Regions from separate parts of the Homo sapiens genome. Here region 2 is linked to region 1. A link means that fine-mapping ties the variant in region 1 to the expression of a gene that starts in the linked region. Tissue or cell type: whole blood. Region 1 holds a variant in brackets; the other region holds the start of a gene. All regions are shown on one strand. Distances are from middle to middle.

The links. PIP is the estimated chance that this variant, and not a neighbour inherited with it, causes the effect.
Region 2: it holds the start of SULF2, and the variant in region 1 is fine-mapped to the expression of SULF2 in whole blood (INTERVAL, PIP above 0.99).

The regions. Positions count from the first base shown.
Region 1 is chr20:47,684,004-47,686,757 of GRCh38, reverse strand. SULF2 (sulfatase 2) reads left to right here. Exons shown (of 21, transcript NM_001387048.1): 6 at 2,177-2,327. Among named protein-coding and RNA genes, the nearest start is that of SULF2, 100 kb to the left of the region's middle. The variant A/G (reference allele first, on the strand shown) is at 1,528.
Region 2 is chr20:47,783,926-47,786,530 of GRCh38, reverse strand. It overlaps SULF2 (sulfatase 2), which reads left to right and starts at 1,050. Exons shown (of 21, transcript NM_001387048.1): 1 at 1,050-1,188. LOC124904920 (a long non-coding RNA gene) reads right to left here and starts at 777. Exons shown (of 2, transcript XR_007067618.1): 1 at 369-777; 2 at 1-126.

The DNA.
Region 1 (2,754 bases):
CTTACATAGCAACGGTGTCCACAGCTGCCAAGCTACCCCAGCGGCAGCGTCACAATTTCTGCCCCGGACGATTGTGATATCTGAGACGCTGCTGAAGTCCCGACGTACCAGGCCAGAGGGAGACATGTCTGTGCCCCTCTGACCAGGCTTGTTTTTCCTCCTCTTCTTCGCGGGAGCTCCTTGCCCCCAGAACACCCACTGTGAAAAGCAGTGGAAACTCACCCTTTACTTCAGCCTTGACTGGGAAGAGAGGCCAGATTTGCAGGGAACCTGGCCTTCAAGAACCATCAGGCCCAGGGCGAGGAAGCCCACGTTTTGTGAGGCCTTAAACAGTGCCTCCTGTCAATGGTGCACCCCACCCAGGAGACTCCCCCATGCTGCGGTTTTCAGTAGCTCGGAGCCAGGGGCCCGGCATAAACTGAGGTGACAAGGAGGTGCTCTTGGTTTGCTCACAATGTTTCCTCTGGTTTTGGTTTAATCTCCCATTGACTAACCAGGAAATAGAGAGGATCAGAGAAGTTTGGGGACCTGCCCGCTGTCTCACGGAGTGAGTGACAGACCCAGTGTACCTGACTTCTGCCGTGGAGTCACCCGTGATTACTAATGACAAAGGGACACACCAATGATAACCTCTCCCAAGCAGTCATCACGCACTGGCCATGGTTAGAAGGGTTCCCCTTACAGCCTCTCCCTCAGTGCTCACAACCTTCCTGGGAACTGGCACTGTCTGTATTCTCCTTGGGTAGGAAATGAGGGAACTGATGCCTTGGGAGGGGACTAACTGGCCAAAGACAGAACTGGGGCTCGAACCCCAGCAGCTGGTATAGTCAACCACTGCCATGATATCATCATAGATACCTGCTTGGGGTCCCTCCATCCCTCACATCACAGGTGCTCAGACAGAACTTTGCCCAACACACTCCTGCTGCACGATTAAGCAGCATGCCAGGTGCAGTGGCTCATGCTTGTAATGCCAAAACTTTGGGAGGCCAAGGTGGGTGGATCACCTGAGGTCAGGAGTTCAAGACCAGCCTGGCCAACATGGCAAAACCCCATCTCTACTAAAACTACAAGAATTAGCCAGGTGTGTTGACACAAGCCCGTAGTCCCAGCTACTAAAGAGGCTGAGGCAGGAGAATCACTTGAACCCAGGAGGCAAAGGCTGCAGTGAGCTGAGATCCCACCACTGCACTCCAGCCTGGACCACAGCAAGACTCCATCTCAAAACAAAGAGGCCAGGTGCAGTGGCTCATGCCTGTAATCCCAACACTTTGGGAGGCCAAGGTGGGCAGATGACGAGGTCAGGAGATCGAGACCATCCTGGCTAACATGGTGAAACCCCATTTCTACTAAAAATACAAAAAAATTAGCCAGGTGTGGTGGCACGCGCCTGTAGTCCCAGCTACTTGGGAGGCTGAGGCGGGAGAATCACTCATACTGGGAGGTGGAGGTTGCAGTGAGCTGAGATTGCGCCCCTGCACTCCAGCCTGAGCGACAGAGCGAGACTGTCTCAAAAAATAAAAAAGA[A/G]TGTGGCATGTCCCAAATGTGCACATTCAGGTGCCTTCCTCACAATTCTGGCCTTACACATAAAACTATGACTTATTTCATTTTTAAATCCATTTCTATTATTTCAAACTAAAATCTATTGCAAAAGGATATTCCGTGGTCCTACCTTAACCACAATAACTGCCACCTGCCATTCACCAAAGGTAACTGCCATCTACCAATAATAGGTACAAGGCACACAAAGCAATGCTATGGAATTTGAGTTGGGTACTGGTTCCCGATGAAGGCTCTGAACTTGACTTTCTTCCCTTTTTTCAAAAGGAAGACGAGCAAAGTCTAGAGAGGTGTTAAAGAAACACTAGCACCAAACAGACTTTGCCCTGAGAGAGCCGACAAGGGACTGGCTGTCTCACTTTGTCACTCAAGGTCACTGAATGCTGTGCCTCTTAGGAGCTTCCCAAGTGCACACTTCACACGTGGAGAAACGCTGAAACAGGGTTTGGATAAGCCCCTGACATGCCAATGTCCCCTTTCCCACCAGGAGATCACACCTGGCCCTGGGCTGCAGACACAGCACAGGGTGGCTGCTCATCCGGGCGGGTCTGGCGGGGGCCAGGCAGGGTCCAGGCTGTCCCTGGGTTTGACCGATGTGTATGTCCTTGCCCACCAGCACGCCGAGCTACAACTACGCGCCCAACCCGGACAAACACTGGATCATGCGCTACACGGGGCCCATGAAGCCCATCCACATGGAATTCACCAACATGCTCCAGCGGAAGCGCTTGCAGACCCTCATGTCGGTGGACGACTCCATGGAGACGGTAGGCGCCCGCTGCATGCCTCTTGGTGGGCGTGGCTCCGAACCCCCAGCCAGGCCAGGGCCGAGACCTCCTGGCCCTTCAGGGTTTTCCTGGAGGAATAGAAATCAAAGGCAGAATGAAGAGGCCCCATGTGCTAGACCTGGGGAACAGCTTGGAGCAATCCAGACAAAAGCCTCTTCCTTCATGAAACATTTTCTAGATCTGTGTTGCCCAATACGGTAACCATATATGCTAGTTATATTTTTTCCTGCTATTTACATTTTTGAACACATTTATTGGGATGTAATTCACATACCATACAATTCCCCCAATTAAAGTGTGCAATTCTGTGGTTTTAATATGCCCAGAGTTGTATAACCATCACCACATCCATGTTAGGACATTTTTCTTACCCCAAAGAGAAACCTCACAGCCCTTAGATGGCCCA
Region 2 (2,605 bases), 100 kb before region 1:
TTTGCCCTGCGATTGAGCTGCGGGTCGCGGCCGGCGCCGGCCTCTCCAATGGCAAATGTGTGTGGCTGGAGGCGAGCGCGAGGCTTTCGGCAAAGGCAGTCGAGTGTTTGCAGACCGGGGCGAGTCCTGTGAAAGCAGATAAAAGAAAACATTTATTAACGTGTCATTACGAGGGGAGCGCCCGGCCGGGGCTGTCGCACTCCCCGCGGAACATTTGGCTCCCTCCAGCTCCGAGAGAGGAGAAGAAGAAAGCGGAAAAGAGGCAGATTCACGTCGTTTCCAGCCAAGTGGACCTGATCGATGGCCCTCCTGAATTTATCACGATATTTGATTTATTAGCGATGCCCCCTGGTTTGTGTGTTACGCACACACACGTGCACACAAGGCTCTGGCTCGCTTCCCTCCCTCGTTTCCAGCTCCTGGGCGAATCCCACATCTGTTTCAACTCTCCGCCGAGGGCGAGCAGGAGCGAGAGTGTGTCGAGTGAGTGTGCGTCTGTGTGTCCCGGCGAGGGTGCGCGCTCGGCGCCGGGAGCGCGGCCAGCCGAGTCCGGAGGCATCGGGAGGTCGAGAGCCGCCGGGACCCCAGCTCTGCGTTCACTGCCCCGTCCGGAGCTGGACTTCGGGGCCGGGGCCGGGGCCGTGCGCCGGGGACAGGCAGGGCCGGGTCGCGGGCCGCGCGTCCCCCAGGCCGGAGGTAAAAGCGCTAGCGCGCGGAGGGCTCGAGGAGGGCACCGCGGCTGGGCCCCCCGCGCCCCGGGCCCCAGCCGTCCGCGGCTCCCGGCCCGACGCTCCCCGCCCCGGAGCGCGCCCGCCTCCCCTGCGTGGAGGCCGGCGGGCAGGCGAGCGGGGGGCGGTAGCGCCGTGCCAAGGGGCTGGCTGGGGCAGCGTGGCCGGCCGGGCTGGGGCGATTTAAGAGCGGTCCGGGCGGGGTGCGGAGCCGGACTTTGGCTGGGGCGGCGCGCGGGGAGGGGGCCGGGGGCGGTGGCGGCGGCGTTGGGGGGCGGGGAGGAGGCAGGAGGAGGAGCAGCAGCGCTCGCCGGGGGATGCAGCAGCGGCAGCGGCGGCGGCGGCGGCGGCAGCGGCAGCGGCGGCGCGGAGTCCCCTGCGCCCAGCGGCCCGGCCGGGCTGCGGCAGAGGCGGCGGCGGCGCCCCGCTCCGGGTGAGGTTGCCGGGGCCGTGCGCGCTGGTGAGTGGGGCGTGGGGGGCAGGTGGGTGGCTGGGGGACGCGGGGCTCGGGCGGGGGCTCGCGGCGGCCGGAGCCTTCCCCGGCGTGAGCCCGGCCGCGAGCGCCGCCCAGGTGAGCCGGGGCTGGTCCGGACCGCCCGGCTCCAGCCCCAGCGCTGCTTGCGGAGGTGGGTCCGGGCGGGCGGGAGGGAGGCTCCGGCGCCGGCCGTCCGCAGAGGGATGACCTGTTTGACCCCGCTGGCTGGCGGGCGGGCGAGGACTTCCCGCCGCGCCCCTGACCCGCGGACACGGCACACCGAGCACAGGCGGCCCCGGGTAGGGGAGCGCGCCTGGGCCGGCCATCCGCAGGGGCATGGCCTTGTTGACCCTTAGGGTTTAGACCCAAGGGACCGGTAGATGCCAGCCCACGTGGGGCTTGTCCGGGCAGGACTCGGGGAAGCAGTGGGCCGGATCTTCAGAGTGGTTGGAAACTCGCAGACACCGAAAGGACAAACAGGATCGAAAAGGCAGACTTCCTCCCAGGCCAGGGCAGAACGAGTTTCCATCGCCTGGCGGAGGGATGCTCCCCTCCCCGGCTCCTCGGGGTTTCAGAAGTCTAGCGGTGAATTCTAGGAGTGCACTTTTCCAAACATTCCTTATAGTAGTTCGTTCATTCGTTCTACAAGCATTTCTGGAGCACCCCCTCGTGCCGGGCACCGCGTTCTGTTCCAGGGAAACGCGGCTGAACAGGATCTGGCTCCTGCGCGCCAGAAGCTGCCGGTTCACTGGGAGGGCAGCAGGGTAGAGAGATGCCGTCTCGGGGTGGAAGATGGAAAGGGAAGCCTGCAATCCTAGTTTGCACACTGGCCTCGGTCCGCAACTCCCCCACCTGCACGCAGTAGGCCCAGCACACAGTAGGAAGAGCAAGCCAGACCTGCCTGTGACGACCCTCTCCTCCTCCTCCTCCCCCTTGAAAGCTTTGATTCATTCCCTGCCCCCCTTTCTGGAAAGTCTTCCTGCAGCTTGTTTTAATCACTTTTTGAGTTAAAAGTCAATATTTAATTAACCAAGTAATTACATTCAGCTTACGTTTCAATCTGGGTATTTGCTCATCTGTGCGTGTTGGGACACCCGCCCTCTCGCCCCTCCATCTGTCCCCTGCCTGTTTCCCACCGGGTCCACCCCCACTTTTGGGGCAGAGAAGGGGAGGCTGCGCTGGAGCAGGTTCTCAGGGGGAGACAGGGAGCAGGAGAGACGGGCTTTCTCTGGAGGACACCCCCGGATCTGCGCGCTCTCCAAATTTCAGCTTGTAGTGAATAGTGAAGGTGATTTCTTGACAGCCTCTGCCTCCCATTACAGAACCACCAGAGGGTTCTAATTAAATTAGAGCCAATCGTTAAGTATAGGAACGGGGTAGGGAGGACAGAACGAAGGGGGCC